Regions from separate parts of the Homo sapiens genome. Here regions 1 and 3 are each linked to region 2. Evidence: fine-mapped QTL for protein levels in blood plasma. A gene starts in region 2. Each other region holds a variant in brackets. All regions are shown on one strand. Distances are from middle to middle.

Region 1 (10,515 bases), 27 kb before region 2:
CTCTTATACCATAGTTTTTCGTACATCTATATGTTTCCCAGTTAGATCACTGACTGTTCTAAGGCAGGAACCATGTCTTATTTGTCTTCTTACTACTAGCTTAGTGCCTAAAACAATTCCTATACATAGTAGGTTGACAATAAATTGAATGTTAACTGCATAGTAACAATCTCTGCCTATTGAAGTTTTAGCTTTTCTTTAAGGCTGATTTCAAATGCTCCATCTCTTCAGAAGCCTTTTCTTATCTCTGTTGTGCTGTCATTTATCCTCAAATTCCTACAGCATCTTTTGCACCTCTTTTGTGAAACTTACTTTGTCTTGTATTACAGACATTCTAGTTCGGCCTTACTTTGTCGGGATAAGAATCAGGTTTTACTTGGCTCCATATTCTTGGATACAAAGTCTTGCACACAGGCTTGCTTATTCATTTATTAATAAAACTGAGCATCAACTATGTGGATTCTGTAGGACTGGGCATATAAAGTGAATTAAGTACACATGGCTTTTATTCTCACTGAACTTAAAATCTTGTGGGGAATTTGGACAAGTAAATAGGAAATCAAAGCTCAGTGCTTTGATGAAAAGGTATAAAGATCATGGGGTCACTTGACCTAATTCAGGGGATCAGAGAAGACATCCATGAAGAAGTGGTACTCACACAAAGTCCTGAAGAATGAAAAACAATGCATATGCAAAGGCCAGGAACTGGTACATTTAAGGAGCTGAAAGTTCAGAAGTTCTAATGAGCTCAAGTGAAGAATGCTTTAAATTTATATCACACCTTTCCCTCTAGAAAACTGAAGTGCAGAGGGACAAGACATAAAAAGGGGAAATCCAAGTTCACATGATGGCTAAACTAGCAAGAAGCTCACATATTTTGTCTTCCAGATCAGTTCTTTTTCCACTAAATATTTGTTTCTGTGTTTCTTTCAAGGCCAAGACCTTCTTTCCTCATTAAGTCATGAAAACCTGTTAATGCAGGAAATACATGCATGCAAGCATTTGATGTAGTTTATTTCTCCCTAAGTCATTCATATATTTCTATGCTGTAGTAAAACAGTGTTGCCTCTGATAGTTCATCCTTAAGAAAGAGAAAAACAGAAGTCCAAGTATGTTGGCTGGAACTCTGCTACAGTAAGTTGGCTCTCTACATGTGGGGAACAACCTCACAGTCTGTGAGCACATACCCCTGAATGTGACTTAGGCAAAGCTGGTTATTGGATGGAAATCAGCATTTAGAAGGCTTTTGTTTTGCTTATCTACATAGCTTCAATGAGGAAGGAGGAAATGAGACTATAAGTACCATGACCATATAATTTATTATCCATACTAGAACACTTTAAGAATGAAAAAGAGGACTCTTAATAATTATGCAAAGAAAACTGGTGCAAACTGGGACCACCCAGGTAAATTGGGACATATGATTATGCTATCTATAACTAAAACACCTTTACAGATTTACACATTAATGTTCAAGGTTTCCCTTTTCTTTGCCTTTATTCTAGATCATTTTTTATAGAAGATGTTCTGTAAATAGTTGATGTTCAAAGAGTCATCTAGAAAGCAGGAGAGCCACTTCACCTTCTCTCATCCCTAGAAAACTGGGTCTTAACATATAATTACAACATTTGTAAATCCTGGCCAACTGCACAATCAATTTTCTTGAGCCTATGTAACTACCTCACAATTTTCTTGAGCTTACATAACTCCCTGACACCTGGATCAGCACTGTCCATTAGAACGCTGCAATGATGGAATGTCATATATGTGCTCTGTCCTACATAGTAGTCACTAGCCACATGAGTCATTGAGAAATGGAAACATGGCCAGAGCAACTGAGAAACTATATTTTAAATTTTGCTTAATTTTTCTTAATTTAAAAATAAATTTAAATAGCTACATGTGGTTAGCAACTAACATAGTAAACATCTCTAGATCACTGGAAGTAAAAAGAGGCACCAGTTGATATGGCTTGGCTGTGTCCCCACCCAAATCTCATCTTGAATTCCCCTGTGTTATGTGAGGGACCCAGTAGGAGGTAATTGAATCATGGGGGTAGGTCTTTCCCATGCTGTTCTCAGGATAGTGAATAAGTCTCCTGAGATCTGATGGTTTTAAAAAGGGGAGTTTCCTTGCACAAGCTTTCTTCTCTTGTCTGCTGCTATGTGAGATGTCCCTTTCACCTTCTGCCATGATTGTGAGGCCTCCCCAGCCACATGGAACTGTAAGTCCATTAAACCTCTTTCTCTTGTAAATTGCCAGGTCTCAGGTATGTCTTTACCAGCGGTGTGAAAACAGACTAATACAGTAAATTGGTACTGGTAGAGTGGGGTGCTGCTGTAGATACTCAAAAATGTGGAAGCAACTTTGGAACTGGGTAACAGGCGGAGGTTGGAATAGTTTGGAGGGCTTAGAAGAAGACAGGAAAATGTGGGAAAGTTTGGAACTTCCTAGAGACTCGTTGAATGACTTTGCCTGCCCCAAATGCTGATAGTGATATGGACAATAAAGTCCAGGCTAAGGTGGTCCCAAACAGAAATGAGGAACTTGTTGGGAACTGGAGCAAAGGTGACTCTTGTTATGTTTTAGCAAAGAGACTGGCAGCATTTTGCCCCTGCACGAGAGATTTGTGGAACTTTGAACTTGAGAGAGATGATTTAGGGTATCTGGCAGCAGAAATTTCAAAGCAGCAAAACATTCAAGAGGCGAGTTGGGTACTGCTAAAGGCATTCAGTTTTAAAAGGGAAACAGAGCATAAAAGTTTGGAAAACTTGCAGCCTGACAATGTGATAGAAAAGAAAATCCCATTTCTAAGAAGAAATCTAAGCAGGCTGCAGAAATTTGCATAAGTAATGAGGAGCTGAATGTTAATCCCCAAGACAATGGGGAAAATGTCTCTAAGGCATGTCAGAGGTCTTCACAGCAGCCCATTCCATTACAGGCCTGGTGGTCTAGGAGGAAAAAGTGGTTTCGTGGGCTGGGCCCAGGGTCCCTGTGCTGTAGGCCCCCTAGGGACTTGATGCCCTGTGTCCGAGTCACTCCAGCCATGGCTGAAAGGGGCCAACACAGAGCTCAGGCCATGGCTTCAGAGTGTGCAAGCCTCAAGCCTTGGCAGCTTCCATGTGGTGTTGAGCCTGCCAGTGCATAGAAGTCAAGAATTGGGGGTTCCCAAAGGAACCTCTGCCTGATTTTCAGAGGATGTATGGAAGTGCCTGGATGTCCAGGCAGAAGTTTGCTGCAGGGGTGGGGCTCTCATGGAGAACCTCTGCTAGGGCAGTGTCGAAGGGAAATGTGGGGTCAGAGCCCCCACACAGAGTTCCTACTGGAGCACCACCTATGGAGCTGTGAGAAGAGGGCCACAGTCTGCTAGACCCCAGAATGGTAGATCCACCGACAGCTTGTATTGAGAGCCTGGAAAAGCTGCAGACATTCAATACCAGCCCATGAAAGCAGCCAGGAGGGAGGTTGTACCCTGCAAAGCCACAGAGGCAGAGCTGTCCAAGACCATGGGAACCCACCTCTTACATCAGCATGACCTGGATGAGGGACATGGAGTCAAAGGAGATCATTTTGGAGCTTTGAGATTTGAATGCCCCACTGGATTTCAGACTTGTGTGGGGCCTGTAGCCCCTTTGTTTTGGCCAGTTTCTCCCATTTGGAATGGCTGTATTTAACCAATGCTTGTACCCCCATTATATCTAGGAAGTAACTAACTTGCTTTTGATTTTACAGGCTTATAGGTGGAAGGTACTTGCCTTATCTCAGATGAGACTGAACTGTGGACTTTTGAGTTAATGCTGAAATGAGTTAAGACACTGGGGGACTGTCGGGAAGACATGATTGGTTTTGAAATGTGAGGACATGAGATTTGGGAGGGGCTGGGGTGGAATGATGTGGTTTGGCTATGACCCCACCCAAATCTCATCTTGAATTCCCACGTGTGGTGGGAGGGACCCAGTGGGGGGTAATTGAATCATGGGGGCAGGTCTTTCCTGTGCTGTTCTTGGGATAATGATAAGTCTCATGAGAACTGATGGTTTTAAAATGGGGAGTTTCCCTGCATAAGTTCTCTTCTCTTGTCTGCCACCATGTGAGACATGCCTTTCACCTTCTGTCATGATTGTGAGGCCTCCCCAGCCACGTGGAACTGTAAGTCCATTAAACCTCTTTTGTAAATTGCCCAGTCTCAGGTATGTCTTTATCAGCAGCATGAAAATGGACTAATACACCAGTGAATGTCACTAAGATAAAACCAGAAAAGCTTTCATTTACTTTTTGTCCCATTTAGATGTACACAGAGCTGGGATCCTAGTAGGCCAAGGTCTCAGCCTTTACCTTTGTTTGACTCCACCTCAAGGATCAATTTCATCTCTATTAAATATAGAGAAAGGAAAGAACATAAAATATATATCAAATCAACACCATTTGATTCAAGCAGAACATTGATATGTTAATCCATTTTACTTGAAACACCATAGTAAGTATTTATACTAGTGGGAACAGTAATGAACATAATCACAGGACTTCATTCCATGGTGTACAATGCATTAAAGAAATCCACAGCCTGG[C/T]CAACATGGCAAAACTCCATCTCTACTAAAAATACAAAAATAAGGCAGGCATAGTGGTACACACTTGTATTCCCAGCTACTCAGGAGGCTTAGGCAGGAGGATCACTTGAAAACCCAGGAAGCAGAGGTTGCAGTAAGCTGAGATCATGCCACTGTGCACAAGCATGGGTGACAGAGTGAGACTCTGTCTCAAAAAAAAAAAAAATTCAAAATTTCTAAAGAAAGTCCTACTTCTGCCAGAGCCTTCAATAAAGGGATATTAAGGCCCCAAAGCTCTATCTTCAGCATTTTGTATTCCTCTTAATACAAAAAGCATAAGGCCCAAAGCAACTGATATCGGATCTCCTTATCAAATGTTTCCTTTGTTCTGCCCTCTCATTAAACTATTTGTAACTCCTCTATGGCTCTTATTACTTTCCGTTTTGTATTAGCTGTGTAACTAATACAAAAGAGCAAAAAGTGGACACTGTGGTAGACAGGTATAATTTTACTTCTCCTACTGAAGAGTAAGTACTATAAGGACAAATACAGTTCATATACCTGTACTATATTTTCTACAACGCCAGGCACAGTTCTTTACACACAGTAGATGCTCAGGAAATGTTTGCTTGTTTATTTGGAAACATTTTGTATTAGTACCTCACATTGTGTTAAGAATTAAGTTTCTGGAACCTGAAATGAGATAAAATATAAATTCTTAGGCAACAATGTAAATTCTTATGCAGATAGAGTAACTGAATATAAATTTGAGGGTGTGGTAAGACTGATTTTTTTTTTCTCTTAGGATTGCAAGCTGATATAATTATATTGGAAAGCAATATAGAAATTTGTATCAAAAGGCTTGGCTGTAATAATTTTGTATTTGAGACTCCATTCCAATTATTTTTAGACTATTATATTGAGGTTATGAATTGACATACAAAAAGTTGTACATATTTAACATATACAACTTGATGAGTTTGGAGAGAAGGATATACCTGTGGAGTCATCACCATAATCAATTTCATAAACATATTCATCATCTCCAAAAGTTTCCTCCTACCCTCTTTATCATTATTACTTGTACGTGTGTGATAAGATCACTCAACATAAGATCTACCCTATTAGCAAGTTTTTAAGTATGCAATACAGTATTGTTAACTATAGGCACTATGCTGTACCACAAATATCTAGAGTTTATCTTGTATATTTATCCTGTACTTACATTTCCACCAACCAGAGTACCTGAAACTTTGTACCCTTGACTAATATACTTCCCCATGACCCCCAGCCCTTGGCAATTATCCTTCTACCCTATGCCTCTATGAGTTTGACTATTTTAGATTTCTCATATGAGTGGTACCATGCAGTATTTGTCCTTTTGTGTCTGGCTTATTTCAATTAGCATAATGTTCTCCAGGTTCATCTATGTTGATGAAAATGACAACATTTCCTTCTTTTTAAAGGCAGAATAATATTCCATTGTTTGTATATGCCACATTTTATTTATCCATTCATCAGTCAATGGACATTTAGGTTGCTTTCATGTCTTGGCTCTTGTGAATAATGCTGAAATGAATGTGGCAGTGCAGATATCCTTTCAATATCTTGATTTTAATTCCTTTGGATATATATTCAGATGTGAGCTTGTTGGATCATCGGTAGTTCTACTTTGAATTTTTAAAGAAACCTCCATACTGTTTTCCACAGTGGCCATTCCAATTTACATTCCCACCAACAGTGTACAAGGGATTCCTTTTCTCCACATCCTTGCCAACACTTACTATCTTTTGGTTTTGTTTTAAAAATAGCCATCCTAATAGGAATAAAGTGATATCTCATTGTGGTTTTGATTTTTGGTTCCCTGATGATCAGTAATGTAGAGCACCTTTTCATGTACCTGTTAGCTATTTGTGTGTTTTCTTTGGAAAAATGTCTATTCAGTTCCTTTGTCCATTTTTAAATTGGGTTCTGTTTTTGCTATTAAGTTATAGGAGTTCCTTATGCATTGTGGATATTAACCATCTATCAGATATATAGTTTGCAAATATTTTCTTCCAATCCATCCATAGGCTGCATTTTCATTTTGTTGTTTCTTTTGTTGTGCACAAACTTTTTCATTTGGTGTAGTCCTACTCGTTTATCTTTGCTTTTATTGCCTGTTCCTTTGGTATCAAGTCCAAGTAATCATTGCTAAGACAAATTTCATGAAGCTTTTTCCCCAATGTTTTCTTTTTCTTTTTCCCCAATGTTTTTAAAGTTTCGAGTCTTGTATTTAAGTCTTCAATTCATTTTGAGTTAATTTTTGTGTATGATGTATCCACCAATGAAATAATTTAAATACTAGGAAATATATATACAGGATGTTCATCTCTGCCTTGTTTATAGTAGTGAAAAACTGGAAACAACTTAAACATCCAACAAGAATGATTAATAAATCACTGACCAGCTAGAAATAGACTATTATACAACTATTTTAGAAGAGGTTTTATTTGTTTAAGAATGTTCACAATATTAAGTAAAAAAAAAAAAACGAGAGAAAAAAGTTGGGAGGAAATACAGCAGGATACTGAGTGGTCACTTTTGATGGTACAATTAGGATTGATTTTCTCCCTCAGCTTTTCTCTTTATATTTTTCAAATTTACTTACTGTCAATAATACGAAACCCACATTAGTATGTAATACGTGATTTTGACACTAATTGATTCCTCTATTTAGAGGTAATTCTAACTAGCAGAGACTTAGGACAAAAATCAAACTTTTAGACAGCTAAGCACACCTAGATTAAAGCATGTTTTTTCTTTTCTTTTTTTTTTTTTTTGAGATGGAGTCTCGCTCTGTCGCCCAGGCTGGAGGGCAGCGACGCGATCTCGGCTCACTGCAAGCTCCGCCTCCCGGGTTCGCGCCTCTCTCCTGCCTCAGCCTCCCGAGTAGCTGGGACTACAGGCGCCAGCCACCACGCCCGGCTACTTTTTTGTATTTTTAGTAGAGACAGGGTTTCACCGTGTTAGCCAGAATGGTCTCGATCTCCTGACCTCGTGATCTGCCTGCCTTGGCTTCCCAAAGTGCTGGGATTACAGGCGTGAGCCACGGCGCCCGGCTGTTTTTCTTTTTGGTAGAGGGCATGAGAGGTAGCTGGCTTGCCACATGCCGATCCAACATCCTGATTTTTCATCAAGAGGCTGAATAGCCAAGATTTTTGTGGCTAGATGAATGAGAATTGGTCAGAGGTGAGTTCCAAACAAAATTATTAAAAATATTCACACAAAAATGTATCTTAATGTTTGTACGATTAATTTTTAAATTGATTTTGTAAAAGCATATATTAGCTCTCTTAGGAAAACTATAGTCAATGCAATAGGATTTATTTATAGCCTATAAATATGGCTATATTCATATCATTATGTGAAACATACTCCAGCATAAGTCATATATCTTCATACCTCTCTATGACAAAACTTCGATTGCTTTTCTGTCCACCAGATTTAAAAAGTGGTCAGTATTTGTGTAGGACATAGGTGAAAAGAAAAAGAAAGTAGCAAGTGGAGAAAGGGAAGTTTGGGAAAGTCCAGATGTAGGTGATGTTGTAGCTCTCTGACAGTCTATTTGGGAGTCAGAATCGGTGTGAGTGCCAAGTTCACTACGCATAGCTTTGCACATAGTAGACAAGTGATAAGTATTAAATGAATCAAAAGCATAGGGGGTTCATAGTTCACCTACTCAGAATATATTCTTTAGAGTTTTTGTTCAGATGGATTCTACCTTTTCTAAAAAGGGGCAATTGAAAGAGTAACAACTAAAAAGGAACTAAATATTGTAGAAAAATCTGAGAAAGGGATAAACACAGTCTTTTCCTGGAGGATTTGCCATTTAAAGCCACAGCTGTTTTTAATGCCAAGTATCCTTGGTGGCCAGTGCCTAGTGAAAGTGTAGAAACTACAGAGAGCAGGATTCAAGTGCTCCCTGAGGGCATGGCTTGTAGCTTTCCCTTCATTATGGAATCAAGCCTGGAGAGCCAGTCTCTTGTTTGAGCTCATTGGTACTGCTCGCCAGAGAGGGACAGAAGAGATAAGAGGATCTGAAGAATATAAAATGGAAGATACGTGGATGGTGATAAAATTTAAGGGATTTAGTGATTTACAAATTCATGCCTTATTTGGATATGAAGAAAAAAGCTAGAGAACATAGTTTAGGCCAGTAACTAGGCTAAAGAAAGGAGTAGAATATAAGGTTGAATGAAATTTCCTGTGCAGTGCCCAGGGACTACGAGATATATAATAATTTTCCAGTTCTCTCACAGTTGGTTTTAATATTATCAAAAGGCTCACTCTTTCTTTGCTTTCTCCTGAGTTTTCCTGCACTCATCTCCTAGGTCCCTCGGGGAAATGCAATGGTTATTATAGTTATGCCTAACATTTCAAAATCATTTTAACTTAATCAAGCATGTTTGCATGGAAAAGTAAAGGCTGTGGTGCCAGAGAAATTTGAGTCTGGTCCCTACTCCACTACTTTCCAATTGTGTGTTCTTGGGCAGCTCCTCAACCTCTCTGGCCCTCAGCTTCCTTAGGTGGATCAATGCTATCAACTTCTAAGGATTGTTATACACAGTAGCCTAGTACTTGGTGTATAGTAACAACATAGTCAAGTTCAGTTGTTACCAAATGCTCTACAGATGTTATGTTTTGGGCTCTTTATTTTCAACTTAATATAGGTTCTTGCCTTCAAAATCAAGGTGAGACCAAAAGGTATGCAAATGCAGTGTAGCAAACAAGCCTAGACAATTAAAAAACAAAACAAAAAACCTGAAACAGTAAGACTAACATTGAATAGCAAAGCAATTTAGTGAAGAAAGAGGTTATGAGAGTGAGACACTCTCAAACCTCCTCTTTCTTTTTATGTTAAGTTCTGGGATACATGTGCAGGATGTGCTGGTTTGTTACATAGGTAAACGTGTGCCATGGTGGTTTGCTGCACCTATCAACCCATCCCCTAGGTATTAAGCCCAGCATGCATCAGCTCTTTTTCCTGATGCTCTCTCCCCATTGCCGCTCCTGCCCCCAAGCACCAGTGTGTGTTATTCCCCTCCCTGTGTCCATGTATTCTCATTGTTCAGCTCCCACTTATAAGTGAGAACATGCAGTCAAACTTCCTGTTTCATTTGGACCTCTCTACAATTCTGTGATAGAGGCAGGGGAAGTGATCAACGCATTCAACAAACTGGAAAAAGCAAAGCACAGATGGGTTTCAGCTCCATTACAGCTGCTATAAAATGAAATCATAGGATTAAGAAAATTTTAAAGTTTCTTTTAAGGCTGTAATTCTATTATTCTTTGGCTTTCCTAAAGTAAGCCTACTAGTTAATGTGAGATCTGGTACCAGAACTCGCATTTCTTGATTCTCAGCTCAGGACTTTGTGCTAGACTGGGAAGTGTTGGGGACATAAGAGAACCTCGTTTCAAAGAAAAATGAAAATCGCAGCTGGGCAGAAATGCCTTCCTTCCTTTTCTATTGGCAGCATTTTAATACAAGCTTAAAATGTCAATAGAACAGCTTTGGCAATGTTTGCTGAAACATACTCATGCCTGAATAATGATTTCCATCTTCACACATTAGTACTTTCGTTCTTCAAACTGTACCCAGTTCCTGCATACTTACTGCTGCTTGATCAGTTGAAACTCTTCCATACTTAAGCCTTTCCTCATGCCAGAAAAACCACAGCTTTCCACCTCTTAGACTTACTTCATTTCTTTTGAGTTGTTTACTCCATTATTACAAAAAGCCAATCATGCTTTGCAAGATAAATATTTACTCTCAGAGTTCCACTCTTCTTTCAGAAGACAAAATAGACACCTTAGAAGGAGAGCAAATAATGCATGTAGAATACTAACAATGGAAGCCACATATTTCTATTTGTGGGCACATAAGTGCATATATGCCTCTGGTGTGCTTTGTGGTTGACTTCTTTAG
Region 2 (10,442 bases):
AACAAACTAGCCACAAGATTAAAAATTATGGCTCAGGAGTCATGCAGCTAAAGGCTACAAGATTCCTAACCTTCCCAATTGCTCCTATAAATAATGTTACTATTGCAAAACCTAAATTTGTGTTTGAAGTTCACACATGAACACAGTCTCACATGTGTGCACACACACATTTTCTTGTTCCTGCCCCTACCTCCAAAGTGGAGGTAGCAAAAATTCACTGTTGTCTCAGAAAGTTAGATCTTGGCAAATAAATATTTGCTCACATAAGTCAAGCATTGCATTTCCCCCTGGCTGCTGAGCCTGTTCTCACACACACAGGGAAGTCAGCTGCAGGGCAGGATGCCATTTCATAGGTGAACATGTCACATGGAATTAGACCACTTTTTCCCAGGTCCTGCTGAACCTGCACCTAGTGAAAAAAAAACTACTATGTCTGCTGCAATACACTGATACCTTGATTAGTGAATTCCTGAAGAACTCATGTATAAGAAATGGGAGAGTCCACTCATTTGTTTTCATTTATTAAAAAATACCCTTATTCTGTGAAGCAGAATTACCTGTATTTGCAGCTGCATGACAAAAATGCCTCAATATAAAGCTCCCCCCAACCCCCACCCCCCGCCCATTGGCTATTTTAAGATAAGTTGGCAATAAATTTAGGCTGAGTTAGAATGTAAATATGAAATAGACTGGTTCCTCAGATGTGAGGCATAGATAGGCACATTACATACTTTGGTAGCATAGAGGAAGGTACCAGGTATGATGCAATGGCAAGGGAGATTTTCTGGAGGAATGTTGCCTGGCCAGTCTAACAGAGGTGTTAAGATCCTAAGCACTAGTTCTACTGCCAGCAAGCCATGTGGTTTGGGGCTAGTTTCTTAACTTCCCTAAACACCAGCTGGTTCACTTGCAATGAGGGTGATAATATTTGCTCACAGTTTTGTATTCCTTGGCTTTCAAGAAATTGCACAATCCTCTTTCCTTTCCACTACCTTCTCCTTTCCCTTTCTCTGTCATTTGTACTTTCTAACGTGGGGCTCCTCAAGTCTCACACCTTGGGCTTCTCTATTTCCACATGCTATGCTCCCTTGGTTCAAACCTTGCCTGCAGTCACATCTCTACCCACTCCACCTCAATCTTGCCTCCGTTTCAATCGCATGCTGGACATTTCCACGTAGACACTCTGCCAAGGCATTTGAAATTCAACAAGTGTAAAGCTGAATATGGATAGTTCTTTTAAATAGGGCTGCTAATCTCACAAACTCCAAACTTCCGAGTCCTCTTCAACATCTTTTTCCCCACTGTTCCTTATCTAATCAGTTGCCAAATTCTGTGGCTTATTACTTTGAAACTTGTTTGGTCAGAGCAGGAATGGAAATTCAAAAGTCTATAATAATTGTGTCAGGAGTTTTACAGAGCAACAGGACTGGAACTCCTTAATATAGATTTATTAATTTTAAAACTAAAAGACATTTTTGTTCTCTAAACACCTGGACTGTTGTAATTAGCTAAATTGGATCTTTGCTTACACAGCCATTCCCATTCCAGCATCTTAGATGCAAATTCCAAATTACCCAGGTGCTTCCTCCTTACAAGTGTCAACCGTCCTTTAATGCTTCTGAATGGTGTAAAAGGCACAGGCCTTGCCTTTAAGGCTCTCTCAAATCTCTTTCCAGCCTCTCTTACCCTCTTGTTCCATTGCCATTGCCTCAATTCAGTTCTCCATACTCTCCCTAAACTAAACTCCTTACTATTCCTGGAATCAACAGGACTGACCCCAAACCTTTGTTCGTATCTCATCTCTTTTCCTATTTTTGCCCTATTGCATTGACACTTGTCATATTTAGTTGAATCACTGGGCCTTTAGCCTTCCCCGCTCCAATTACCACACTCCCTTCTTTCCTTTCTGAAGCCCCATACCACTTTGGTTGTGATATTTGTATAGCATTTATCATGGAAAACCTCCCTACTAGATTGTAGATTCTCAAACACAAGTATTGACACTTAGTGGGTTTCTGTATACTAGGGAAGTTTATTAAACAGTCTTTGATTTAGTCATTGTATGGTTCCTGGGATAAGAGTAAGAACCGTGGTCCCTTGCTCTGTCAAAATCATAAACCTATTTTCTTTGTATTTTGACTTAATTACATAAGCTTGTTTTGGATTGGAAGGTCTATAGAGACTATTTTAGTGCCAAATGCTATTTAATCAATGCAGAAATAAGCCCTTGAGAGGTGCAGTGACTCAGCTGAGGACACACTGATAGTTTCTGGTAGATAAGTATGAAGCCTTGGAACTACTTCTCATATCATAAGCCCCTGGGTTCCCAAATCACCTCCCCAAGTACCTAATTCATCATCCTCTGCATACAAGAAATTTTTGCTCATTCCAATAAAAAGAATGTAGTACGGCAGGACAGGAGAAGTACAGGTTTTGGAATCAAACTAGGTTTAGATTCTGACCTGGTCGCTAGTTAGTGCATGGGCTTTGGTAAACAGCCTCTCAGCCTGTTTCCTTGTCTGCAAAATATGGATAGTTATCTTCACTTCATGAAGTTGTGTTGGTGAAATGGTATAATGTGTATAAAGCAACTGGAACACAACAAATGAGGCCATTTATTTAAAATAATCTTTAGTAAGTTATAAATTCACATATTTGCTTTTTTCTGAGGAATGCTTAGATTTTATCATAGATCTCTTTTCTAAATTGAGTAAATACATAGTGGATTTCTTTGTTTCCTTCCCCTCAGAATGTTGAAATTTGGCTGATTGTAACTATTACTTAAGACTCTATCCAGTAATTGTTCGTAAAATTTCTTTTCTTTTTTTTTTTTTGAGACGGAGTTTTGCTCTCGTCCCCCAGGCTGGAGTGCAATGGCGCGATCTTGGCTCACTGCAACCTCCGCCTCCCAGGTTCAAGTGATTCTCCCGCCTCAGCCTCCCAAGTAGCTGGGATTACAGGCACCTGCCACAACGCCCAGCCAATTTTTGTATTTTTAGTAGAGACGGGGTTTCACCATGTTGGCCAGGCTAGTCTGGAACTCCTGACCTCAGGTGATCCTCCTGCCTTGGCCTCCCAAAGTGCTGAGATTACAGGCGTGAGCCACCACGCCCGGCCAAAATTTCCTTTTAAAAAAAGTTATTGCCAATAACTAAGTATGCTGGAAGGTGAATGCTTAGGACATTTAGTGTCACTGAGCTGTGTGATAGAGATAATATTTTTGACACTTTGCAGAGCTCATTGTTTTCTCTCCATATAAAGCTATGACATTCACATAATAAACATGTAGAGAGCTTTAACAGACTTCAATGTTAAGTCTTCTAACAGCTGCATAACTGGTCTTGCTTGAACCTGTCTTTTTCATAATGCTACCTTGCCTTTCACACCAATTCTGTGAGCCCAAGCAGGAATGAAGATTACCTATCTCTAATGGCAGGACAGAAGGGAGTGGTGGTTAAGGTTACTGGAGGTTATTGGGGGAATAAATGAAGACCTCATGCCACTTCTAAACACTGCCAGGACCTAACATACCTTGTGTTTTTATATCCAATATGGGAGTAAAGGTTAGATATTTTAACATCAAATATGAGGATGACACTAGATGGTTTTAAAAGCCCCCCACCATAACTTCTAAACTCCACAATGTTCGAATATTGTTAGGTTTCAGTGAAATCCTACAGTAGTCCCTTGCTTGGAATCACTGTAGGATTGGCTCCAGCAATGGGCAACACAAGGTTTGGTTCTATACAGTAGGTATGGGTCAAAGAAAATGCTATGATTGAAAAATTGCTGTTTTCCTCCTCAAAAAGCTCATACCAACCAGGAAAGAGCTATCAGAAAACCTTCAGGAAAGAATATAATGATAGGATATAACAAATACCCCCACAGCTGGTCCATAGACCAAAGTATAATTCCAAGTAGGGAATTTCACTTAACGAGGTAAGGCATTTAAGGGAAAAGGAATCTAGGCTAGGACTCTGCTAGCCAGACCCAGATAAATTATTACAGGGAAGCATGTTCTTGAGGCTATTCTCTATGAAGAAGGGCAACCCACCTTGCCATCTATATCCTTTCTGTTTTCGACAGGGGTGGTCCTAAGCTGGATAGATCTTTACTCTGACCAGTACCATATAGGTCTGTGGTTCTCAAACCTGGCTGCACAGTGTGGCACTTTAAGTAATCCTGATACCCAGTCCCATCCCCAAAGATGCTGATTTAATTTGTCTAAGGTGCAGTTTGGGCCTCTGGATTGGAACCAACCCATATACCCATCAATGATAGACTGGATAAAGAAAATGTGGCACATATACACCATAGAATACTACACAGCCATAAAAAAGGATGAGTTCATGTCCTATGCAGGGACATGGATGAAGCTGGAAACCATCAACCTCAGCAAACTAACATAAGACCAGAAAACCAAACACTGCATGTTCTTACTCATAAGTGGGAGTTGAACAATGAGAATACACAGACACAGGGAGGGGAACATCACACACGGGGGCCTGTTGGAGGGTGGGGGTTAGGGGAGGGATAGCATTAGGAGAAATACCTAATGTAGATGTTGGGTTGATGGGTGCAGCAAACCACCATGGCACGTGTATACCTATGTAACAAACCTGCATGTTCTGCACATGTATTCCAGAACTTAAAGAATATATATTTATATATGTATAAATATATATGAATATATAAATATAAATATATATATAAGCTCCCCACGTGATTCTAATGTGTGGCCAGTCTTGCAAACCTCAGGCTATTTATTCTAAAGGGTTTGTAACAAGCCTTCCTCTTAAAATCCACCCCACCACCATTCAGCGTTTTGGGGTCTGTTTGTTTTTATTGTTATCCCACCCCACACCGCCCCGAGGCGCGCGCGCGCGCGCGCACACACACACACACACACACACACACACATACACACACGCACACTGGTGAATTTCTCTCTACAGTCAGTCTGGAGTAATCCCAAAGTGGTGTCTTTCGTAAATAAGGAGAACCCGGGTGAAGAAAATGACTCCCACCCGAACAAGGCATGAACAATGTTCACTCCCTACTGTGTTATTCAACCTGTTTCCCCAGGTCTCTGTTTTCACATTAGAGAGTGTTCTAGGAGATGACGCCCTTCCTCCTTAGTTATTTCCCCACCCTCGTGCTGGCCTTTGACAGACCTCCCAGTAGAGGGCCCAAGACGCGGGTAGAGCACCGCGTCTCAGCGCCTGAGTCTCAGCCCCCGAACTCCACCGCACCTGCAGGTCCCCTTGGCAGCACTCAAGCGCGGGGATGCTCCGCTTAGACGAACTCACGTGCGGGCAGCAAGGCCTGCGATACTTGAGCACCCCTCCCCCTCTCCCGTTTACACCCCGTTTGTGTTTACGTAGCGAGGAGATATTTAGGTTTCTAGAAGGCAGGTCATCGCAGGCCCCACCCAGCAGTGGAGAGAGTGAGTCCCAGAGGGTGTTGCCAGCGAGCTCCTCCTCCTTCCCCTCCCCACTCTCCCCGAGTCTAGGGCCCCCGGGGCGTATGACGCCGGAGCCCTCTGACCGCACCTCTGACCACAACAAACCCCTACTCCACCCGTCTTGTTTGTCCCACCCTTGGTGACGCAGAGCCCCAGCCCAGACCCCGCCCAAAGCACTCATTTAACTGGTATTGCGGAGCCACGAGGCTTCTGCTTACTGCAACTCGCTCCGGCCGCTGGGCGTAGCTGCGACTCGGCGGAGTCCCGGCGGCGCGTCCTTGTTCTAACCCGGCGCGCCATGACCGTCGCGCGGCCGAGCGTGCCCGCGGCGCTGCCCCTCCTCGGGGAGCTGCCCCGGCTGCTGCTGCTGGTGCTGTTGTGCCTGCCGGCCGTGTGGGGTGAGTAGGGGCCCGGCGGCCGGGGAAGCCCCTGGGCTGGGTGGGAGGTCCAAGTCGGTCTCTGAGACACGCACAGGGGCCGGCGACTTGGCAGGTGGGGAGCTTGGCCCGCGGTCGTGGTTCCCGCCGTCCTGTGCCTTTAAGGCTCTCGCCGCTCACCAGCATTTGGGGCTCCTGCTGTGTCGGCCCCCAGCTGACTTGGCTTTAGGGGTCGGCGTGGAGGGTTAAAGAGGCCCCGGCTGGGTTTGCGGAGCAGCCAAGCCTGGCAAAATCGAAAGGGAGGGCTCAAAGAGACTGTATCCTTAACCCCCAAAAAGCTGGTCTAAAAGGATGGGAGGCCAGACCGCTGACCGTTCCCCACTCTCGACAGAGTCCAGCCGTGTGGAGCACACGATGCTGCAAACTTGCATGTCATCTCTTTCAGGTGTGGCATTTCAAGGGGGCTTGTGTCTTGAAAACAGCAACTGTGAGGACACTTGATAGTCATTTCCTTCAGTTCTGCTTTTGTCTCCCTAGGTGACTGTGGCCTTCCCCCAGATGTACCTAATGCCCAGCCAGCTTTGGAAGGCCGTACAAGTTTTCCCGAGGATACTGTAATAACGTACAAATGTGAAGAAAGCTTTGTGAAAATTCCTGGCGAGAAGGACTCAGTGATCTGCCTTAAGGGCAGTCAATGGTCAGATATTGAAGAGTTCTGCAATCGTAAGTTCTTCATCTTTTTAGAAAAGTTCTGGGAATGGAATGTATCTTAAATTTATTTTTATATACCTTTGGAGTGACTAGTAATTGATAGTTCTCTAGCGTTACTAAACCCCAGGGTATACCCTGTTGGCACGTCACACTCCAGCTAATTGAAGACATTTACCACCCTGAGTAGGTCCTGCTGCTTCATTAAGAGTTTTTCTTCCTAACACTGTACCTCTTGAACGAACTAGTAGAGAAAATAAACAATAGGTATTGTTTAGGGAGTAAACATATAAAATATATTTGGCAATTGCCTTGAGACACATAGCGTAAATGATATGTTTTCTTAAGTATTTTATAAAGTAGGACTTACCAAATACAACTCTGTGGTGGCATTTTTAAAAGCTCTCAATATTTACTTCAAAATCTGTTATACTTGTACATATTTATAGGGTACATGTGATATTCTGGCACATGCATACAGTGTGTCATGATCAATCAGGGTAATTGGATAGCCAGTACCTCAAACACTTGGTGTTTGTGTGGAGAATATTCCAAATCTTCTCTTCTTGCTACTTTGAAAAAATATATGTATATATATAAATTGGGATATATATATAGGGAGAGAGATATATATAATTGGGATATATATATATAAGGAGATATATAATTGGGATATATATAAGGAGATATATATAGGGAGAGATATATATATATAGGGAGATATATATATATAGGGAGAGAGATATATATAGGGAGAGAGAGATGTATAAACTGGGATATAGACAGGTAGATAGGTTGATTGTTAAAAATGAATAAGAGGCCCAGTGAAGAGTTGTTTGGGGGCTAACACAGTAACCGTGTTTGATACTGATACCTAGTAGAATTAAAAGAAATGAAGATTTCTTGTTTTAGGTGAATATACATACAGTCATCCACACCTTATGTGCCCTTTGATTTCATAAAATATATATTGGCATTATCTTGGAGGAAAAAAATCTGTTACTTACATAGCCCTGTATTAGCTTTGAGATATATGAGTAGAGATAAAGATAAAGAGACCCGATAACCTGACTTTGAACAACTTAAATCAATAGAAGCTACTGTAAATACAGAAATTGGCACAAATACCTTTAGAAGCCATGCGTGAAATAGGCTTTAACTTTTTATTTTTATCCACAATAGAGGCAGTAGGATGAAGTACATAGTCTTTGCACATGTATCATGTTTTAACTCTTCCCCATGTTATTACTTTATCCAATCCTCCAAACAACCTTATGAGGTAAGTTGGGGCTCTTACACTCTTTTTATGGCGGAGGAGACAGACCCCAGTAGTTTAATAACTTCCTCAAGAGCAGCAGCTTTTACGCCAAAACCAAGGTGTAAACTTGGGTCTTCTGACTACAAATCCAATGATGACCCTTCCACTTGACCATGCCTCTCTAGATTCACATTTGTGGGCAATCTGTTTACAGATGTAAATACTTTATGTATACAATTTGTGGGCAATCTGTTTACAGGTGTAAATACTTTATGTATACAATTGACTCATCCTTGCCCCCAGGGCTCATGGGAATTAAATGAGTTTGTACGTAAATAAATATTAGCTGCTATTATTGTTGTGCAGGACATTAGTCCAGGGGTCTGGAAATACCCTATTCCTGTACTGTATGGTGCTGTGTAGTTCTTTAGGGCAGGGTAAGGAAACCAACATTTATTGAATGCCAGAACTGGGCCAGGCAACTTAAATTTTTTTTTTTTTTTAAGTGGGGATAGTGATATGTGTGTACCAACTCTACTTCCTAAGCCTCTAGTAACTAGGAAACAAAGTATACATGTGAATACATTTGCTACATTGCAAGTGCCATGGTGATATTAATATAGTTAAGTACTAAATATGCGCAAAGCAGTAAAGAAAGGGGGTTATTAGGGTCCAGATAATTAAATATAGATTATAAAACAAAAATTGATACTACATTTTTTGTTGCTGCTTTTGTTAATACTTTTAGGTAGCTGCGAGGTGCCAACAAGGCTAAATTCTGCATCCCTCAAACAGCCTTATATCACTCAGAATTATTTTCCAGTCGGTACTGTTGTGGAATATGAGTGCCGTCCAGGTTACAGAAGAGAACCTTCTCTATCACCAAAACTAACTTGCCTTCAGAATTTAAAATGGTCCACAGCAGTCGAATTTTGTAAAAGTGAGTAAAATTTTTTAAAGTATTTTCAACCATCTGGTGTTTGGGGGAAATAGTATCCCTTCCTTCATTCATGCTAGAACTCTATGTGTATATATTATTATATAGGATGTTTCTTGATAGGACCATGAGTGTCAATTTATTTTGAATTAGACTAAATATTTATGTGGTAGGAATACTTATTCATTCAAAAATTTCACATTTAATTAGTTTGAGGTTACCTAAAATAAAACAAGTATATATTCTAAATTCGTTGCTTTTTCAAAACTTATTATAAAGAGAAATTAGAATTAAAGAAGTCTAAGGGTCAGGCATGGTGGCTCATACCTGTAATCCCAGCACTTTGGGAGACAGAGGCAGGTGGACCACTTGAGGTCAGGAGATTGAGAGTAGCCTGGCCAACATGATGAAACCCTGACTCTACTAAAAATACAAAAACTAGCTGGGTGTGGTGGCGCATGCCTGTAATCCCAGCTTCTTGGAAGGCTGAGGCAGGAGAATCCCTTGAACCTGGGAGGCAGAGGTTGCAGTGAGCTGAGATTATGTCACCGCGCTCCAGCCTGGGCAACAGAGCAAAACTCCATCTCAAAAAAAAAAAAAAAAAAGTCTAAGGATAAGAAATATCAATGGTTCAGATGATGAATTTACATATATGTGCTTGATAATTTTTTCAAAATTTTTACCTGAGCTTTATTGAGGTATAATCGACAAATATTATCTTAGGTGTACAACATGATGTTTTGATATATGTGCACATTGTGAAATGATTAACACAGTCAAGCTAATTAACATATCTACCACCTCACATAGTTACCTTCTTTGTGTGTATGCCTGATAATTTAATTTTAAAAAATCAATTTGTATTCTATTCTAGAGAAATCATGCCCTAATCCGGGAGAAATACGAAATGGTCAGATTGATGTACCAGGTGGCATATTATTTGGTGCAACCATCTCCTTCTCATGTAACACAGGGTAAGTTTGGGCATACTAAAACCCTGTATTTAGGAAATGAGAAAACAAATTAGGACTTAAGGTGAGATTGTTAGTTTCATGACTGGTATTCACAGCTAGTAGCAATTAAAACAATCCCTCTCCTCAAAGACCCTTCATCATGAGCTCATCACAGTTAAATTTAGTAAAATGGGGGCAAGAAAGGAAGATTTCTTAAACCACCAGAATTCTCTAAATTCTGATTTCAGTAAATATGTGATTCAATATAAAATTTTAAATGTGATTAATAAAAAAATTTGAGATGATGATACTTGCAGAAATCTTCAAATGTTAAATACTAAACCAATCTTTAGTTGACCTAAATAATGAATTTGCATGAGTTTTTCTATATGCAAACAAGCTGTTACAAAACAGCATGAGTTAAAGACATTCCTAGTGTGAAAGTATTCTAAGTTCTTTGATAAGTTCTCTGTATAGGGAGAAGGAACTCATTCATTGAGTACCATCAATGTCTCAGACACTGTTGAAAACTTTACATTTATTTTCTCATTTCATATCTGTAAATTAAATAATTCTATTTTACTCTGTGTGTGTCCCTATTCTTTATAAAGTAAAAATATCAGTATCACTTGTCTCCTATACGAAACACAGATATTGGTTAGGTCATGAACACAAAATCTGGGAAGTACTTTGAACCCTTTAAATATAAGTACATTCTATTATTCTGTGAAGCCCATATTTAGAA
Region 3 (10,515 bases), 60 kb before region 2:
CTCTTGGAAGTTCCAAACTTTCCCACATTTTCCTGTCTTTTTCTGAGCCTTCCAAATTGTTCCAACATCTGCCTGTTACACAGTTCCAAAGTCACTTCCACATTTTTGGGTATCTTTATAGGAGCAACCCACTATCTGAGGTACCAATTTACTGTATTGGTCCATTCTCACGCTGTTAATAAAGACACACCCAAGACTGGGTAATTTATAAAGAAAAGAGTTTTAATTGACTCACAGTTTAGCATGGCTGGGGAGGCCTCAGGAAACTTACAATCACGGCAGAAGGGGATGTAGATACACCCTTCTTTACATGGCAGCAGGAAAAAGTGCTGAGCAAAGGGGGAAAATCCCCTTATAAAACCATCAGATCTTGTGAGAACTCACTATCATGAGAACAGCATGGGGGAACTGCCCCCATCATTAAATTACCTCTTGCTGTGTCCCTCCCATGACATATGGGAATTATGGAAACTACAATTGAAGATGAGATTTGGGTGGGGGTGGGGCCACTTATTGTTATAAACTTTCCTCTTAATACTTTTGCTGCATTCCATGTTTTTGTCTTGCAATCTATTTTGTCTGATATGAGTATAGCTACTCTTGCTCTTTTTTGGTTTCCATCACCACAGAATATCTTTTTCCATCCCCTTATTTTCAGTCTATATGTGTCTTTTTAGGTGAAATGGGTTTCTTGTGTGCAACAGATCATCGAATCCTCTTTTTTTCATCCATTCTGATACTCTGTCTTTTTACTGGAGAGTTTAGTCCATTTACATTCAATATTATTATTGATAAGTAAGGACTTACTTCTGCCTTTTAAAAAATTTGTTTTCTGGTTGTTTTGTGGACTTCTCTTTCTTTTTTCCTTCTTTTCTGTCTTCCTTTTAGTGAAGATGATTTTCTCTGGTGGTATGATGTAATTTCCTGCTTTTTATTTTTGGTGTATACATTGTATTTTTTTTATTATAGGTTGCCATGAGGCTTGCAAATACTGTCTTATATCCCATTATTTTAAGTTGATAACATCTTAACACTGTTTGCATAAATAAACAAGCAAAAAGAAAACTAATAGAAACTCTGTTTTTTAACTTTGTGCCCTGCTTTTTAACTTCGTGTTGTCTCTATTTATATCTTATTGCACTACGTATTGAAAAGTTGTAGTTATTATTTTTGATTGGTTCATCTTTTAGTCTTCTACTTAAGATAAGACTTGTTTACATACCACAGTTACAGTGTTATCATACTGTGTTTTTCTGTGTACTTACTACTACCAGTGAGTTTTGTGCTTTCAGATGGTTTCTTACTATTCATAATGTCCCTTTCTTTCTGGATGAAGTGTTCCCTTTAGCATTTCTTATAGGACAGGCCTGGTGTTGATGAAATCCCTCAGCTTTTGTTTCTCTGGGAAAGTCTTTACATCTCTTCATGTTTGAAGGATACTTTTGCCAGATATACTATTCTAGGGTAAAAGTTGTTTTCCTTCAGCACTTTAAATATGTCATGCCACTCTCTTCTGGCCTGTAAGGTTTTCACTGAAAAGTCTGCTGCCAGACATATTGGAGCTCCACTGTATATCATTTGTTTCTTTCCTCTTGCAGCTTTTAGGTTCCTTTCTTTATCCTTGACCTTTGGGAGTTTGATTATTAAATGCCTTGAGATAGTCTTCTTTGAGTTAAATCTGCTTGGTGTTCTATAACTTTTTTGTACTTTGATATTAATACGTTTCTCTAGGCTTGAAAATTTCTCTATTCTTATCCCTTTGAATAAATGTCCTACTCTTATCTCTTTCTCTACCTCTTAAGGCCAATAACTCTCAGATTTGCCCTTTTGAAGCTATTTTCTAGATCTTGTAGGTGTGCTTTGCTTTTTGTTATTCTTTTTCTCCTCTGACTGTGTATTTTCAAGTAGGCTGTCTGCAAGCTCACTAATTCTTTCTTTTGCTTGATCTATTCTTCTGTTAAAAGATTCTGATACATTCTTCATTGTCAACTGCATTTTTCAACTCCAGAATTTCTTCCTAATTCTTTTTAATTATTTCTATATCTTGGTTAAATTTATCTGACAGAATTCTGAATTCCTTCTTTGTGTTTTCTGTAATTTCTTTGGGATTCCTCAAAACAGGTATTTTGAAAACTTTTCCTGAAAGGTCACATATCTCTGTTTCTCCAGAATCAGTCCCTGGTAACTTACTTAGTTCATTTTGTAAAACCATGTTTTCATGGATGGTCTGGATGCTTGTGGATGTTTGCCAATTTCTGGAAATTGAAGAGTTAGGTATTTATTGAAGTCTTTGCATTCTGGGCTTGTTTGTGCCTGTCCTTGGGAAGGCTTTTGAGATATTCAAAAGGACTTGGGTGGTGTAACCTAAGCCATGTCTGCATTAAGGGGGACCCCAAATCCACTAATACTGTAGTTATTGCAGACTCATAGAGGTACCACCTTGGTGGTCTTGGATAAGATCTGGAAGATTCTCTGGATTACCTGTTCTCTTTTCTTATTTTCTCCCAAACAAACAGGGCCTCTCTCTTTCCATGCTGAGCTGTCTGGAGCTGGGATTAAGGTGACACAAGCACCTCCATGGCCACCATCACTACTGTGCTGGGTCAGGCCTGAAGCCATCACAGCACTAGGTCTCGCCCAAGGCTCACTGTAATGACTACCTTTCTACTGCCTATGTTTGGTGAAGGCTCTAGGGCTCTACAATCAGCAGGTGATGACTCCAGCCAGGCTTGTGTCCTTCTCTTCAGGGAAGCAAGTTTTCGACACCCTTGGTAGGTATAGAGATGGCATCTAGGAGTCAGGGACTGGAGTTGAAAACCTTAGGAATCTACTTGGTATTCTATTGTCCTGCAGCTGAGCTGACACTCAAACCACAAGACCCAGTCCTTCCCATTCTTCTCTCCCCTTTCCATAGGCAGAGGAGCTTCATTCCACGGCTACCACCACCACAGGCCCACAGTGAGTCCTGCCAGGCTACCACCAATGTTCACTAAAGGCACAAGGACTCTTCAGTTAGCTTGTGGTGAATGCCGCCAGGCCTGGGACTCACTTTTCAGGGAAGTGGGCTCCACTCTGGTCCAGGGAATGTCCAGAAATGCCATCCAAGAGCCAAGGCCTGGAAATAGGGACCCCCAAGAGCCTGCTTGATGGTTTGCCCCTGTGGTTGAGCTGGTATGTAAGGTACAAGACAAAGTCCCCTTTACTTTTCCTTCTGCTTTTCTCCAGCAGGAGGAGTCATTCCATAGCCACAACAACTGGGAATGTGCTGGGTCTCACTTGAAGCCAGCATGTCTCAGAATCTTACCCAAGGCCCAGAGTGTACTACCTGGGTCTCACTACTGATTATTCAGGGCCCAAGCCTCTTTAGTCAGCAGGTGATGAGGTACTGCTGGAACTGGGTCCTTCTCTTCAAGGCAGCAGTTTCCCTTCTGGCCCAGGGTATGTCTAGAAATGTCATCCAGGAGCTAGAGCCTCGAGTGGGGGCTTCACAATTCTGACTGGTACCCTATCTTACTGTAGCTGAACTTGTATCCAAGATGCAAGACAAAGTCCTTATTACTCTTGCCCTTCTTCTCCTCAAGCAAAAGCAAGAGGTCTCTTTTGGAGCCACGAGCTGTGCTGTCTGAGGTTTGGGGAGGGGTAGCACAAGCCCTGGCTGCCCTGGCTGATGTCCCAGTAGGTCACATGCCCCCCAGTTCCACGGGCTCTGAGCCCAGCTCAGAACTAGGACTTGCCTTGGAGTTGCAGTCCTTGTGGCCCAGATTACATTTCAAGTTTATTTAGGCCTCAAAGCACTTTAGCCTGTGGTGGCAAAGCTTGCTGGAACTCAAATTCCAACTACTGGGATGGGTGATTCCCATCTGGTGAGGGCTCCTCAAACTGCTTCCTCTATAGGTGGGCATCTGCTGAGTTCAGCCTTATTTTGCTTTTCGCTGTGACAGGGGAGCACTGAGGTCAATGCAAAGTCTCACAGTTGCTGCATTCTCCCTCTCCCAAGCACACAGATTCTCTCTCTGCCTCATGTGGCCACTGCCAGGGTATGGGGTAGTGGTGTCAGCAATTCAAGACTGTCTTTCCTATTGTCTTTGGTGCCTCTGTCAGCAGTAGGAAGTTAAAACCAGGTACTGTGAGTGTTCACCTAGTTTTTGGTTCTCACGAAGATGCTTTTATTGTGTAGATAGTGTTAAATTTGGTGCTTCTGTAGGAGGGACAATCAGTGGAGATGTCTATTCAACTATCTTGCTCCTCCCCTCTTTCCAGATCTAATTTTTAATTTTTTATTGCTATACTATGGTTGTACACATTTGGGGGTGCATGTAATATTTTGACACATGTATATAATGTGTAATTATTCAATCATTGTAATTGGGATATCTATCACCTTAAACATTTATCTTTGTGTTGAAAACATTACAGTTCTCTTCTAGCTATTTGGAAATATACAATAAATTATAGCTAACTATCAAATACCAGAAATTACTCCTTCTATCAATCGTATTTTTGTATCCCTTAACCAACTTCTGTTCATCAGTCTCCCCCTACTTCCCTTGCAATGTAATTTCTGACATTCCTGACTGTCATATCTAATCACTTCTAATCAGAATAACAATGACATTAAAAATGTCATTTAGGCCAGGCACGGTGGCTCACACCTGTAATCCCAGCACTTTCGGAGGCCGAGACGGGCAGATCACCTGAGATCAGGAGTTTAAGACCAGCCTGGACAACATGGCAAAACCCTGTCTCTACTAAAAGTACAAAAATTAGTTGGGCATGGTGGCGAGTGCCCGTAATCCCAGCTACTCAGGAGGCTGAGGCAGGAGAATTGCTTGAACCCAAGAGGTGGAGGTTGCAGTGAGCTGAGATCACGTCACTGCACTCCAGCCTGAGCGACAAGAGAGAGACTCCGTCTAAAAAAAAAGAAAAAGCCCTTCAGATTTAGAGTTACTAGTGAACCTTTTCAAAGAATCTAAGTATATATTCTAGATGTGGCACAGAGTGAGAAGTCTCCTTATGTGCTTTATATTAAGATTCTGTCAGTTGATGAATAAATATATGATATTTGTATTACTATAAATATGTCCTATATGTACACTACTATGATTAATGATGACTGTTAAAGCTATTTATTGTATGTGCAAAAAAACTTTTTAATATTTAAATAATAGGAAAATTGTTTCACAGTTAATATAAATATCAATAGTGCATTATTTAGAGAACATTAAGAAAAACATAATTTTTCTGCCAACAAACATCTAATAAAATTAAATAATTGTACATGTCAACATACAAATACCTGTAGCATTTCTATACAACAATATCAAACTAGCTGAAAAGGAAGTCAAGAAACCATTTACAATTGCAACAAAAAAATAAAATACCTAGGAATAAATGTAACTAAGGAGGTGAAAGACATCTATAAGAAAAATTACAAAACACATTGATGGAAGAAATTGATGACACAAAGAATTGGAAAAACATCCCAAGCTCATGAATTGGAAGAATTAATATTGTCAAAATCACCATACTGCACAAAGTAATCTAAAGATTCAGTGAAACCCGAGCAATAAATATCAGTGATATTCTTCACAGAAATAGCAACAACAATCTAAAATTCACATGGAACTAAAAAAGAGCCCTAGTAGCCAAAGCAATCCTGAGCAAAAAGAACAAAGCTTGAGGCATCATGTTATCTGATTTCAAAATATAATACAAGGCTATAGTAACAAAAACAGCATGGTGTTGGTATAAAAATAGACCTGTGGAAGAGAATAGAGAACCCAGAAATAAAGCCACATATTTGCAGCTAACTCATCTTTGACAAAGCTGACAAGAATTTACACTGGGGAAAAGACATCCTCTTTACTAAATGGTGCTGGGTAAACTGGATTGCCACATGCAGAAGAATGAAACTGAATACCTATCTCTCACCATATTAAAGAATCAACTCAAAATGGATTAAAGACTTAAATGTAAGACCAAAATCTATAAAAATACTAAAAGAAAATCTAGGGAAAAGTCTCCTGGATATTGGCCTAGGCAAAGAATTTGTAACCTCAAAGAACCTCAAAGTACAGGCAGCAAAAACAAAAATAGACAAATGGGA[T/C]TTAATCTAACTAAAAAGCTTCTACACAGCAAAAGAAAAAATCAACGGAGTGAAGAGACAACTTGTAGAATGAGAGATAATATTATTCATCCAACAGAGGACTAGTATCCAGAAAACACAAAAACATCAATACAAAGAACACAAATACAAAGAACAGCAAAACCTCCTGAAATAATCCCATTAAGAAATAGGCAAAAGATCTGAATAAGTACTTATCAAAAGAAGACATACAAATGGACCAGGCATGGTGGCTCACGCCTGTAATCTCAGCACTTTGGGAGGCCAAGGTGGGCGGATCACCTGAGGCTAGGAGTTCGAGACCAGCCTGGCCAACATGGTGAAACCCGTCTCTACTAAAAATACAAAAATTAGCTGGGCGTGGTGGTGGGCACCTGTAATCCCAGCTACTTGGGAGGCTGAGGCAGGAGAATCACTTGAACCCAGAAAGTGGAGGTTGCAGTAAGCCAAGATTGCGCCACTGCACTCCAGCCTGGGTGACAAAGTGAGACTCCATCTCAAAAAAAAAAAAAAAAAAAAAAGACATACAAATGGCCAGCAGTTATATGAACAAATGCTCAACACCACTAAGCATCAGAGAAATGCAAATCAAAACCACAATGAGATATTATCTCACCCACTTTAAATGACTATTATTAAAAAGTCAAAAAATAACAGATGTTGGCAAGGATGCAGAGAAAAGGGAACTCTTTTTTTTTTTTTTTTTAGATGGAGTCTTGCTCTGTTGACAGGCTGGAGTGCAGTGGCACAATCTCAGCTCACTGCAACCTCCGCCTTCTGGGTTCAAGCGATTCTCCTGTCTCAGCCTCCCAAGTAGCTGGGATTACAAAGATGCACCACCACACCCAGCTAATTTTTTGTATTTTAGTAGAGATAGGGGTTCACCATGTTGGCCAAGACAGTCTTGATCTCCTGACCTCATTATCCACCCGCCTGGGCCTCCAAAAGTGCTGTGATTACAGGCGTGAGCCACCGTGCCTGGTTGAAAAGGGAACTCTTATACACTGCTGTTGGAAATGTAAATTAGTATAGCCATTATAAAAAACATTATAAAGGTTTCTTAAAAAATTAAAAATAGAGCTACCATATGATACAGCAATCCCACTACTGGGTATTTATCCAAAAGAAAGGAAATCAGTATATCAAAGGGATACTGGCACCTCCATATTTATTACAGCACTGTTCATGATAGCAAAGAGATAGAATCAACCTAAGAGACCACCAACAGATGAATAAATGAATAAATAATATGTGGTGGCCGGGCACAGTGGCTCACACCTGTAATCCCAGCACTTTGGGATGACAAGACTGGTGGATCACCTGAGGTCAGGAGTTCGAGACCAGTCAACATGGAGAAACCCTGTCTCTACTAAAAAATACAAAAATTAGCCTGGCGTGGTGGCACATACCTGTAATCCCAGCAACTCGGGAGGCTGAGGCAGGAGAATTGCTTAAACCCAGGAGGCAGAGGTTGTGGTGAGCCGAGATTGCGCCATTGCCATTGCACTGCAGCCTGGGCAACAAGAGCAAAACTCCACCTGAAAAAAAAAAAAAAAAAAAGAATATGTGGTATATGTGCTATATGTACACAATGGAATATTATTCAGCCATAAAAAGAATGAAATCCTGTCCTTTACAGCAACACTGAATGGAACTGGTGTTCATTATGTGAAGTGAAATGAGCCAGGCACAGAAAGATAAATGTTGCATGTTCTCACTCATAGGTGGAAACTAAGAAGTTGAACTCATGGAAGTAGAGAGTAGAACAATAGTTACTACACATTGGAAAAGGTCCGGGAGAAGAATATAGGGAGGTTGGTTAATGGGCACAAATACACAGTTAGACAGAAGGAATAAGTTCTAGTGTTCCATAGCACAGTAGGGTGAGAACACTTAACAATAATTTCTTGTATATTTCAAAATAGCTAAAAGAGAAGATTTAAAATGTTCCCAACCCAAAGAAATGATAAATGTTTGAGGTGAGGGATATCCTAAATACCCTGATTTGACGATTACACATTGTATGCATGTATCAAAATATCACATGTATCCCATAAATATGTATAATTGTTATGTATTGTGATGGTTAATATTTGGTGTCAACTGGATTGGATTGAAGGATGCCTAGATAGCTGGTAAAGTATTGTTTCTGGGTGTGTCTATAAAGGTATTGCCAGAGGAGACTGACATTTGAGTCAGTGGACTGGGAGAGGGAGACACACTCTCAATGTGGGTGGGCACCATCCAATCTGGCTGCCAGAATGGCTAGAACACAGCAGGCGGAAGAAGGTGGGATATAAGCTGGCTTGCTGAGCCTTCTGGCTTTCATCTTTCTCCCCTGCTGGATGCTTCCTTCCATTCCTCCTGCCCTTGGACATTAGATTCCAGGTTCTTTGGCCTTTGGACTCTTGGACTTAACACCAGTGGTTTGCCAGGGTCTCTCAGGCCTTCAGCCACAGACTGAAGGCTGCACTATTGGCTTCCCTGCTTTTGAGGCTTTTGGACTCAGACTGAACCACTACTGATGTCTTTCTTCCCCAGCTTGCAGACGGCCTATCGTGAGACTTTGCCTTGTGATCATGTGAGTCAATTCTACTTAACCCATTTATGCCTGAGGTTGCAATTTTTTTGTGTGAAAAATCAGACCTTGGTGATGACCTTGTGCTCAAGGATATAAATAACTCCCACATGCTTAGCATTCCAATAATGGAACATTAGGCATATGTAAACTCCCTTCCAGATATACATATATCCTATTAGTTCTGTCCCTCTGGAGAACCCTGGCTAATGTATGTATCAATAAAAGTGTTGCTTGTTAAAAATTAATTATACGACACAGAGTAATAGATTAGATATCAAAGTGATAACTTTTACAGAATTTTTTATATGCTGGCATTCATTGTATTAAACATAATGAGCTCTAATAGCTGTATTTTACTTAATTTAGGCTACTATGCTTTTAGAAACTAGTTCTACAGGGATTCATCAAAGCAGAATGGAAAAGAGAATGTCAAATATTATCACCTCAAAATTTGACAAAGGAAAAACTTCCAAATCATATGTCACAATCATGATAAATTGTCATCAATCTGAATATAATACATTATTATAATATGTATAAAGAAATAAAGAAATTATTAAGGAAAAATGAAGCCACAGCTGAATAGCTAGCTCTTCCTCTCACCTCAGTTGAAAGTGAGGGTTTATAGAGTATCGTAAATAAGTGGTATAGCAATCATAAAAGCAATCAAGCAGCTGGCAGTGCTAATAAATTCCTGTTTCTGCATGAGAATATAAAACTTTTAAAATTTGAATATTAAACTTTCATAATATATTTGTAATAATTATTAAACTATTTTGGGTGAAACTTCTAATTTTCTTCCTGCAGTGCATTTCATGATACTATTGTAAACCTCATCTTCTACTTTGAGAAAATACTATGCTTTAATACTTGGCCATCTGCTATTAGGACAAAATGTATATTTGGTGTACCTCTAGAGACCTTTTACTAAATGGTCACCTCTAACTTTAAACTTCAAGCTTTTCCAGGCATAGTTCATTCTACTTCCAGGGCCACCTTGCCACTGGTATAAATTCTCTTTCCACGGCTCAAAATTTATATCAAGATTCTTATTTATTTATATATTTAATGGGTACAACATGGTGCTTGGATGTACATATACACAGTGAAATAACTACTACAGTCAAACAAATGTAAATATTCATCACTTTCCATAGTTACCTATGTGTGCTAAGAGCACCTAAAATCTATTCTGTTAGCAAATTTTCAGTATACAATACAATATTATTAACCATAGTCTCCATACTGTATTTTAGAGCTCTAGACTTATCATCCAATTTAACTGCAAATTTGTACCCTTTGACATACCTCTATTTCCTCCCCCTCCTTACCCCTGGTAACCACTGTTCTACTCTCTGTTTTTATTTAAAACTCCTAGAAGAAAACATGGGAAGAGCTCTTTGATACTGGTCTTGGAAATGACTTTTGGCCATCACCCCAAAAGCACAGTGACAAAAGCAAAAATAAACAAGTAGGATTACATCAAACTAAAAAGATTCTGCATAGCGAAAGAAATAACAAAATGAAAAGGCAGCCTGCAGACAGGGAGAAAATATTTGCAAACCATATATCTAACAAAGGGTTAATATCCAAACATATAAGGGACTCACACACCTCAATAGCAAAAAACCCTCAATAATTCAATTTAAAAATGGGCAAAGGAATGAAGTAGACATTTTTCCAAAGAGGGCATATGAATGGCCAACAGTTATATGAAAAGGTACTCAGTATCACTAGTCTTCAGGGAACTGCAAATCAAAACCACAATGAGATTATCACTTCACCCCTGTTAGGATGGCCATTATAAAAA

Which allele goes with the higher level. Positions count from the first base shown, and alleles are read on the strand shown. Strength reflects both the effect of a copy and how common the allele is.
For the plasma level of the protein whose gene starts at base 5,675 in region 2, allele C in region 1 goes with a lower level than allele T (moderate association).
For the plasma level of the protein whose gene starts at base 5,675 in region 2, T is the high allele of the variant in region 3 and C is the other (strong association).

Evidence for each region. A credible set is the group of variants that fine-mapping cannot tell apart. PIP is the posterior inclusion probability: the model's chance that the variant is causal. Protein levels are from antibody-based Olink assays in UK Biobank. Linkage for the fine-mapping came from a reference panel and not from the study's own genotypes, which makes the PIPs less certain.
Region 1: its variant is the best candidate, but not a certain one, in a credible set for the plasma level of the CD55 protein (UK Biobank, PIP 0.63).
Region 3: its variant is the best candidate, but not a certain one, in a credible set for the plasma level of the CD55 protein (UK Biobank, PIP 0.52).

What each region holds. Positions count from the first base shown.
Region 1 is chr1:207,288,686-207,299,200 of GRCh38, forward strand. All of the region lies in intron 2 of LINC02942 (long intergenic non-protein coding RNA 2942), which reads left to right. All of the region lies in intron 1 of LOC107985251 (a long non-coding RNA gene), which reads right to left. Among named protein-coding and RNA genes, the nearest start is that of CD55, 28 kb to the right of the region's middle. The variant C/T (reference allele first, on the strand shown) is at 4,569.
Region 2 is chr1:207,316,004-207,326,445 of GRCh38, forward strand. CD55 (CD55 molecule (Cromer blood group)) reads left to right here and starts at 5,675. Exons shown (of 10, transcript NM_000574.5): 1 at 5,675-5,862; 2 at 6,379-6,564; 3 at 8,556-8,747; 4 at 9,619-9,718. The coding sequence starts at 5,763. LOC107985251 (a long non-coding RNA gene) reads right to left here and starts at 6,126. Exons shown (of 3, transcript XR_007066838.1): 1 at 5,683-6,126. RefSeq lists enhancers at 581-1,410, 5,101-5,310 and a silencer at 5,871-5,950.
Region 3 is chr1:207,256,332-207,266,846 of GRCh38, forward strand. The region is part of intron 2 of LINC02942 (long intergenic non-protein coding RNA 2942); the gene reads left to right. The region is part of intron 1 of LOC107985251 (a long non-coding RNA gene); the gene reads right to left. Among named protein-coding and RNA genes, the nearest start is that of LINC02942, 21 kb to the left of the region's middle. The variant T/C (reference allele first, on the strand shown) is at 6,107.